Homo sapiens: one gene and its partners. The protein of the gene in region 1 purifies or fractionates together with the protein of each later gene. This does not show direct contact. Each region holds a gene or a part of one and is shown in the gene's direction. Other genes may lie near its edges.

Region 1 (3,429 bases):
AGAGGATGGGCCTAGAAAGCCAAGTGCAAAGATGAGGGCAGATTCTTTACCTGTCTGCCCTCATGATTTGCCAGCATGAATTCATGATGCTCCACACTCGCTTATGCTACTTAATCAGAATCTTGAGAAAATAGACCATAATGATTCCCTGTTGTATTAAAATTGCAGTCCAAATCCCATAGGATGGCAAGCAAAGTTCTTCTAGAATTCCACATGCAATTCACTCTGGCGACCCTGTGCTTTCCTGACACTGCGAATACATTCCTTAACCCGCTGCCTCAGTGGTAATAAATGGTGCTAGATATTGCTACTATTTTATAGATTTCCTGGTGCTTAGCCTTATAAAAAAGGTTGTAAAATGTACATTTATATTTTATCTTTTTTTTTTTTTTTTTTCTGAGACGCAGTCTGGCTCTCTGTCGCCCAGGCTGGAGTGCAGTGGCTCGATCTCGGCTCACTGCAAGCTCCGCCTCCCGGGTTCACGCCATTCTCCTGCCTCAGCCTCCCGAGTAGCTGGGACTACAGGCGCCCGCCACCACGCCCGGCTAATTTTTTGTATTTTTAGTAGAGACGGGGTTTCACCGTGTTAGCCAGGATGGTGTCGATCTCCTGACCTCGTGATCCACCCGCCTCGGCCTCCCAAAGTGCTGGGATTACAGGCTTGAGCCACCGCGCCCGGCTATATTTTATCTTTTATCTTTTTCTTTGACATTTACCAATCACCAAGCATGCACCAAACACTGCTTTAGGCACTGGGGACACAAAGGGGACAGAGCCATCCTCCTTTGACACCTGGTCTTCAGTTCTGTGCCCAACGTATATAGTTTTGACAATGACCAGGTTGGACTGTTTAATGTCTTTCAACTTACCACGTAATCCTCTTGTAGGGATCACATCTTTCTTTATGATATTGTATTTCTCTACCTCTAACAGTAAAAATTCCATTCAACCCTTAAAGCTCACTTCAAATTCTTCTTTGAGAAGTTTTTCCTTTCTCCGCAACCAGATGTACATATTTGAACTCTCTTTGTACTTGGAGGGCACTTCTTTCGTGGTAGTTCTTTTATTTTTATTAATCTCTGTATCCTTAGATAGTCCTCCAACAACCAAAGGTTGGGACTCTGTCTTACATATCTGGGTGCCCCTCATAGTGCAGTAATAAGTAAGTTGATTATATACGAGCTATGTAACTTATATTTTTTAATGGTTGGATATCACTGAGTTTTTTTTTTTAAGAATTTTTTTATTGAGGTAAACTTCACATAACATAAAATTAACTATTTTAAAGTGAGAAGTTCAGTGCCACTTAGTATTGTTAACAATGTTGCATAACCACCACCTTTATTTAAAGTTCCAAAAAAAATGTTCTCCTCTAAAAGGAAACCCCATCCCATTAAGCAGATACTCTCCATTCCTTCCTTCCTCCAGCCCCCAGCAACCACCAATCTGCTTTCTGTCTCTATGGATTTATCTATTCTTGCTATTTTATATAAATTGAATTGTATGAGACCTTTTGTGTCTGGCTTCTTTCACTTAGTACAAGTTTTTGAGATTTATTTACATAGTAGCATGTATCAACACTTCATTTTTATGGCCAAATAAAATTGTATTATGTGTTTATAGCACAATTTATTTATCCACTCATTCATTGATGGACTTTGGGTTGTTTCTGACTTTTGGCTATTGGGAATAGTGCTGCTATGAATGTTTGTGTACCTGTATTTGTTTGAATGCCTATTTTGCATTCTCTTGGGTATATATCTAGGAGTGGAACTGCTGGGTCATATGTTAATTCTATGTTTAGCTTTTTGAGGAACAGACAAACTGTTTTCCACAGCAGTTGAACCATTCCACATTCCCACCAGCAATGTATGAGAATTCCAATTTCTGTCCACTTCCTCACCAACACTTATTATTTTCCTTTTCCTTTTTTTAAAAAAAATAAGTTATGGCCATCTTAGTGGGTGTGAAGTGGTATCTCATTGTGTTTTTTATTTGCATTTCCTATGTAATGAGCTAGAAACTAAAGTACAAACTAGATGGGACATCCAGTCCCTTTGATAGATAATGCTGAGTAAAAAATGAGATGAAAGACATTTGTTTGTTTTTAGAACACGAGTGACAGTTTGTTAAAAAGCTTTAGAGGAGGAATGAAAACAAAGTGAAGTACACTTAGAAAAGGGCCAAGTGGACATCTTGGATGTCAAGTGCCTAGTTCAGTATCTTTTTTTTTTTTTTTTTTTTTTTTGAGACAGTGCCTCACTCTGTCACCCAGGCTGGAGTGTAGTGGCATGATCTGGGCTCACTGCAACCTCCTCCTCCTGGATTCAAGCAATTCTCTTGCTTCAGCCTCCCAAGTAGCTGAGACTACAAGCACCCACCATCACACCCAGCTAATTTTGTATTTTTCAGTAGAGACGGGGTTTCGCCACATTGGCCGTGTTGGTCTTGAACTCCTGGCCTCAAGCGATCCGCCTACCTCAGCCTCCCAAAGTGCTAGGATTACAGGCATAAGCCACTGAGCCCAGCCCTAGTTCAGTATCTTTTATGTAAATTACAAACATCTGCAACATTATGTATCATATGCAGATACTTATTGCATTTCTTTTATTAGTGGTGAAAGTGTTCTATGCATTTATTGGCTCTTGAATTTCCTCATCTATGAATTGTCATTCATACACCTACTTTTCTGCTTCGTTTTTACATATGTCTTTGCCTATTAAAGATATTATCCCTCTGTTTTATATTTTCTCTCATTCTTGTATTGCCTTTTAAATTTTGTTATGATGTTTCATTAATAAACAGTGTTTTGTTTTCCTCTATAATCAAATCTAGATTTTCCCTTTGTGATTTCCGACACCACTTCCATTCTTAGAAGTACTTTTCCATTCATAAAGTAGTAAAATAAAATAGTTTTTTCTCTAAACTTTTATTTTTGTAATGATTTAACTAATTCACATGGAATTTGATTTTGTATTATTGACATTCAGGAGAAAGCATAATTTTATTTATTAGCCAATTTCTGGATATTGTAAATCTATTTTTCCATCTTTATTCTTCTGGTGAACTTTAGAATAATTTTTTAATACCCAAAGTAATTTTTTTAACTTTCAATTTTTTGGGAGGAAGGATTAGCATGACATTAAGCATATAAATTACTTGAGTAAATTGATGTATTTACAATGTTTAGTCATCTCATTAAGGAAAATGAGAAGAGTCTCCATTTATTCAAGCCCTTTTCTATACTACTTTTATTAAAACTTTTTTTTTGAGTTTTTTTCAATATAAGTCCTACATATCTTTTTTTTCTTGTTATGGCTATTTCTAAATTTTAGTAACAATTTTAAACAAGAGCATTTCCCCTGACCTGATTATGGATGGCATATAAGTAAACCATTGAAGCTTATACATTTATCTTGTGCATGACCA
Region 2 (3,659 bases), on another chromosome or scaffold:
TTGTTTTCTTCTTTGTTGCAGACATGAAGACATCTTATCCATCCTCACTGCTGTCAACGATGATGTGAGTCGAAGAGTGGACAAACAGGGAACAAAGAAACAGATGCCCCAGCCTGCTTTCACACTAAGGAAAAAACTAGTATTCCCTGTGCCCCTGGATGCACTTTCATTATAGCAGAGAGTTTTTGTTGGTTCTTAGACCTCAAACGAATCATTGGCTATAACCTCCAGCCTCCTGCCCAGCACAGGAATCGGTGGTCTCCACCTGTCATTCTAGAAACAGGAAACACCGTGTTTTCTGACACAGTCAATTCTGATTTTCTTTTTCTTTTGCAAGTCTAAATGTTAGAAAACTTTCTTTTTTTTGGAGATAGTCTCATTCTGTCACCCAGACTGGAGTGCAGGGGGGCAATCACGGCTCACTGTAGTCTCGACCTCCCAGGCTCAAGCTGTCCTCCCGCCTCAGCTTCCCAAGTAGCTGGGACCACAGGTGTGTACCACCGTGCCCGGATTTTTTTTATTCTTTATTTTTTGTAGAGATGGAGGGATCTCACTTTGTTGCACAGGCTGGTTTCAAACTCCTAGGCCCAAGTGATCCTCCCACCTCTGTCCCCAAAATACTGGGATTATAGGCACGAGCCACCACACCTGGCCAGAAAACTTTCATTATTGAAGACTTGGATTGTAGCCTTGGTTTTGGATGTCTATTCTGAAGACAGAGTAATTGGCTTTGGTTTGTGCAGGTACTTTTTCTTTGAGACAGAGTCACTCCGTCACCTGGGCTGGAGTGCAGTGGTGGGATCACTGTTCACTGCAGCCTTGACCTCCCAGGTTCAAGCGATCCTCCCACCTCAGCCTCCCAAGTAGCTGAGACTACAGGTGTGTGTCCATGCACAGCTAACTTTTTATTTTTTTTGTGGAGATGGGGTTTCACTATGTTGCCTAAGCTGGTCTCAAACTCCTGGGCTCAAGCGATCCTCCCACCTCAGCTTCTCAAAGTTCTGGGACTACAGGCATGAAATACTGTGCCTGGCCTGGGGACCAGGTGCATTTTAAGGTTCCTTGGTGTTCAAAAACCACGTTCTTAGCCTAGATTGAGCTTAGATTGCCTCTCTAGACAACTACCCCTTAGTTATAATTCTGTGTCCCCTCTGCATGCCCTTAAACATTGGACAGTGAGGTCACAGTCCACCCACCCTCTCTCTGATCTCCCCCTTCCTAAGACTTCTCTTTTGCACATCTAGTGAGGTGAAAATTTGGTCTATGCCAGGCCCATTTCCTGCTTTTGTGTAAGGAAGGTGCTCACATAGGAAGTTTTTATTTGGTTAGAGACAGGTTTCCCTGTAGGAAGATGATGGCTCATTTACACTCAGCTGCTCTGCAAGCAGAAACTTTACAACCTGATGTCATATTCCATTTTGGACTGGGTGCGGTGACTCATGCCTGTAATCCCAGTACTCTGGGAAGCCAAGGCAGGCAGATCACTTGAGGTCAGGAGTTCGAGACCAGCCTGGCCAATACGGCAAAACCTCATCATTACTAAAAACACAAAAATTAGCCAGGTGTGGCGGCGAGCACCTGTAATCCCAGCTACTCGGGAGGCTGAGACAGGAGAATCTCTTGAATCCAGGAGGCAGAGGCTGTGGTGAGCCAAGATGACACAACTGCACTCCAGCTTGGGCAACAGGGCGAGACCTTGTTTAAAAAAAAAATTCAATATTGGGGTTGGAACATTTCAGTTGCCATTGACAGAACACCCAATTCAAATTGACTGAAGCAAAGAAGGGAATTTATTGCCTCTTTCACATTGAAACCCAGGAGTGGATAACACTGGCTTCAGGCAAAGCTTGAATCAGGACTCAATCTACAGGCCAGCACCTTTCTCTTGGCCGGATGTCCTCAGGGCTGGCAGATGCAGTAGACTGCAGTGGACAGTCCCCACCTTGTTACTGCTACTACACTTTGCTCCTCTGGCCCAAGGCATGAGGAGAGAGGCTGTGTCAGAAACTGAAGCTGTTCTCAGGATCACTGGGCTCTTCTTGGCAGAGGGGATGTCTGGCTTGCCTGAAGGGAGTGGCTCTGTAAGGACGCCTTGATGCTTTCTTCATTAAGATTTTGAGCATTTTTACGTACTTGAGCTTTTTTTTTTTTTTTTTTCAATTTCTAGAGGAACTTTTTCTCTGTTAATTCCTGGAACTGTATTTTGAATCCTTAAAGGTGAGCCCTCATAGGGAGATCCAAAGTCCTGTGGTTAACGCCTTCATTTATAGATGAGGCAGCTGAGGCCTGGGGATGTGAACAACCTGCTCACAGTCCTCATTTACTGGATTTGACTTCAGCCAGGTGAACTGGAATGCCTTGGGGCGTGGAAGGGCATTAGGAGTGTTTCATTTGATATGTGAATGCTCATAAAAAAATGTCAAGGAATGAAGAACAACAACTCTCAGTGGTGCCTGCATTTATAATTATTTATGTGAAAGTCAAATTCATGTACAGTAAATTTGTTATAAGAATATTCACAAGAACACTGTTCTGATATCTCTGATTGTCATGTGGATTTGAATGTAGCTTGACAGAGGGAATGTCTAATCTATATTGACAGGGCAGGAACACCGTCATCTTAGACAAACACCGCCACTTTAAGTTCCAGTTCCCTTTCTAGCCTCATGCATTTCAAGGAAATCACTTCTTTTCTAACAGCGAGCAGCCAGAAAGAGAAGAGAGTAAAATACAGATAAGACAGCTCTGGCATAGAGGGAGGTGGGGGGGTGGGGGAAGTCTCTTGGGTAACTGCCAAACTTTGCCTTCATACAATGGGTTCCAGGAAAACAATGAGCCTTAATAAGCACATTCCTTTCCCTTCAGGTGCACTAAGTGGGGAAGCTAAAAGCAGACTGGAGGGGGGTGGGGTGTACCTACAGCTGCAGAAATATTGTATGGGAACGGACACACAACTCTCCCTCCCAGATAAGCACAGCAAAGAGACATAGAAGCAATCCAAGCCTCTGATAAACTCTCCCACCCTAAATCCTTAAAAACTCTTAGTCTGTAAGTGAGTGGGCTCTGACCTAACTCGGCCAGAAGCCCCTTTCAAATTTGTTTTCTCTAAAATAAACCTGTCCTTGGCTGTCAAGCCACCTTTCATGTTTCTTTCCTCTTTCTTTAATTCTTACACATGTGTCAGGATGATCTCCCAAAACCGTGTTCATAACAGTCAGGGCCAAAAGCTAGTGGTCACAGTCCTTGTCCAGTTGGCAGAACTGACATGTGAAGGCAAGTGAAGGATGGTGAGATACTGAGGAAAGAGCAAAGGATCTGGAGATCAAAGCCCTGCATTTCCATTTTGTCCTGATTCCTTTGCTCAGAGACACTAACTAAATCAAGCTAGCTTTTTTCAGCCTTGTCTGTAAAGTAGAGAAAACATTAGCTGTTGGGAAGACGAAAAAGAATGTGTCCTATGTGTGCATCTATTTAAATCTAACTGTGCTGAGGTGCATATAAATGCCTTTAGGTGGTAGGGTCTTCCGGTTGTAACTGCAACAGAAATAGCAGGACTTAAGTTCCTTTGTGCGTAATTCCAGCTGACTTTATTAGCGGCAACTCAGCACTAGCATTACCCCTGACATACTCTGAGTAAGATCTAATTCTTCCCTCACTGG
Region 3 (2,901 bases), on another chromosome or scaffold:
TTTCACCAGGCACTACATTGCTTGCTCAGAAGGCTAATAAACAGCAACATTGGTGGTAGCAGTAGAGAATACACATAGGTTTAGCAACATGTTGGACTTTACCACTCTCGCTTACAAAAGCCTATTTAGCTGTCAAGACTATTAGGTGTCCAACACACAAGCAACAAAGTCCAAGGCTAAGCACACAATAACATATCCTGGGTGAATAAATCAGTCACCTTTTGTCAGACTTGTTGATTTTATTGGAGCTCCTCTATGATAAAGGCAACAAGGAATTTTGTAAATGGAATCTACCTTCATCCTTGAATTACATTTGCTTTACCTGACATCATTTTTCTCTGATCGCCACTCTCCACGGGTACATTGAATGCCTTATATATACTGCCATAATATCCTGTTCTACATCCTTCTATTAAAAGAACTTGTTGTATAACAAATGAGTAGATATTCATTGGACTCACCTGGTCCACCATTTATCCTATCACTAACCAAAATTATTATTATTATAGAATGGTGAATATTTTATTAAAGACTCAATCACAGTGCCAGCTGGAGACAATGGCTTATAAGATTGTACTCATGCTAGAGGATGTGGTGGTGTATCCTCTGAACTAGTAACTAAGTATAAGCTTGTCTGGTGTCTCCCATATAAAAAATACAACAATCTTTGATATTTGTTATGAATGTTGAAGTGACTCCTTTTGTCATTACATCTAATGATCCACTCCAAATACTTGTCTCTTGTCTCTGAGATTCTAGGTTTTTGCAGAATTAGTACCCAAAGGGAGAGTCTTAGCAGTATTCCATTTTACAATCCATCCTTCGTTAGAGGATGAGAGACTTCTATCTAGCCTTTTAGGTTGCCTGAGACCTTTAAACAAACAGTCAAAAATTTAAAATTTAAAATGCGGCTACACTGTTGCATGGGGTAGTAAATCTTGACCTTAAAACTGGTATTTGTAAGAAAAACAGAAAGAATTCAGGGATCCCCTTTGATGGCTCCTAATTCTATACAGTCCTGTAAATATTCCTGAAGACTAACCAGGCGTGGTGGTGCACACCTGTAATCCCAGCTACTCCAGAGGCTGAGGAAGAGAATCACTTGAACCTGGGAGGCGGAGGTTGCAATGAGCTGAGATTGTACCACTTCACTCCAGCCTGGGTGACAGAGCAAAACTCTGTCTCCAAAAAAAAAAAAAAGAAGAAGAAAGAAAGAAAGAAAGAAAGAAAGAAAGAAAGAAAGAAAGAAAGAAAGAAAGAAAGAAAAGAAAGAAAGAAAGAAAGAAAGAAAGAAAGAAAGAAAGAAAGAAAGAAAGAAAGAAAGAAAGAAATGAAGACTGCCAAAGCTTGGAAGCAACCAAGATGTCCTTCAATAAGTGACTGCATAAGCAAACTGTGGTATATTCCTACAGTGGAATATTATTCAGTGCTAAAAGGAAAAAACTATCAAGCCACAAAAAGATACAGAAAAAACAAAGACATTTTGCTAAGTGAAAGAAGCCAGTCTGAAAAGGGTACATACTGTGATTTCAACTATACGACATTCTGGAAAAGGCCAAACTATAAAGACAGTAAAAAGATCAGTGGTTATCTTTGCAGACGCCACCATCGCTGTGAGCCCTGTACTATCAGCCATGGTCAACTCCGTCGTCTTTTTTGACATCACCGTCGACGGCAAGCCCTTGGGCCGCATCTCCATCAAACTGTTTGCAGACAAGATTCCAAAGACAGCAGAAAACTTTCGTGCTCTGAGCACTGGAGAGAAAGGATTTCGTTATAAGGGTTCCTGCTTTCACAGAATTATTCCAGGGTTTATGTGTCAGGGTGGTGACTTCACACGCCCTAATGGCACCGGTGACAAGTCCATCTATGGGGAGAAATTTGATGATGAGAACCTCATCCGAAAGCATACAGGTTCTGGCATCTTGTCCATGGCAAATGCTGGACCCAACACAAATGGTTCCCAGTTTTTCATCTGCACTGCCAAGACTGAGTGGTTGGATGGCAAGCATGTGGCCTTTGGCAAGGTGAAAGAACGTGTGAATATTGTGGAAGCCATGGAGCACTTTGGGTACAGGAATAGCAAGACCAGCAAGAAGATCACCATTGCTGACTGTGGACAATTCTAATGAGTTTGACTTGTGTTTTATTTTCACCACCAGACCCATTCCTTCTGTAGCTCAGGAGAGCACCCCTCCACCACATTTGCTTGCAATATCCTAGAATCTCTGTGCTCTTGCTGCAGTTCCCTTTGGGTTCCATGTTTTCCTTGTTCCCTTCCATGCCTAGCTGGATTGCAGAGTTGAGTTAAGTTTATGATTATGAAATAAAAACTAAGTAACAACAACAACAACAAAAAAGCTCAGTGGTTGCCAGGAGTTTGGGGATGGGTAGGGAGATAAATAGTTCTGAAACAGGCGATTTTTAGGGGATTGAAAATACGTTGGTAATAATGTAATGATGGGTACATGACATTATGCGTTTTGCAAAACTCCTAGACCTGTACCACACAAAGAGTGAACCCTAATGTAAACTGGGGGTGGGATAAAGGTGACAGTATGTGAGAACTCTGTACTTTCTGCTCGATCTTTCCATAAAGCTAAAACTGCTCAAAAAATAAAGTCTATTATTTTGTTAAATGAAAGAAATTAACAATGACCATGGCACGCTCACACAAAAAGATTACCAAGGACATTTCTCTGTCAGGAATGAATATTTGGTCATCTCACAAGGCAAAACCCTGACTAGCAGAGGTGTTAGCTGAGGGCACATGGCCATAGATGCCAATAGTGACCTGCTGGCCACTTGCAGAAAGGAGAGCCTTGACATCCAAACACATTGTTTCTCTTGTATTGTCCTGTGCATACTTATGTATCTTAACAACTTTCCTTCCTTCCTCTC

The links.
Region 2: the proteins of SERPINB9 (region 1) and CASP10 purify together in Homo sapiens (affinity purification with western blotting, with the first as the bait; one study listed by BioGRID). This does not show direct contact.
Region 3: the proteins of SERPINB9 (region 1) and PPIAL4C purify together in Homo sapiens (affinity purification with mass spectrometry; one large-scale study listed by BioGRID and IntAct). This does not show direct contact.

The regions. Positions count from the first base shown.
Region 1 is NC_000006.12:2,886,666-2,890,094, reverse strand, and holds the end of SERPINB9 (serpin B9), read left to right. Parts: 3' UTR 1-2,825; downstream 2,826-3,429. UniProt on the Homo sapiens protein: Granzyme B inhibitor.
Region 2 is NC_000002.12:201,217,567-201,221,225, forward strand, and holds part of CASP10 (caspase-10 isoform 1 preproprotein), read left to right. Parts: intron 1-21; coding exon 22-175; 3' UTR 176-3,659. UniProt on the Homo sapiens protein: Involved in the activation cascade of caspases responsible for apoptosis execution. Recruited to both Fas- and TNFR-1 receptors in a FADD dependent manner. May participate in the granzyme B apoptotic pathways.
Region 3 is NC_000001.11:149,582,264-149,585,164, forward strand, and holds PPIAL4C (peptidyl-prolyl cis-trans isomerase A-like 4A/B/C), read left to right. Parts: upstream 1-1,584; 5' UTR 1,585-1,634; coding exon 1,635-2,129; 3' UTR 2,130-2,344; downstream 2,345-2,901. UniProt on the Homo sapiens protein: PPIases accelerate the folding of proteins. It catalyzes the cis-trans isomerization of proline imidic peptide bonds in oligopeptides.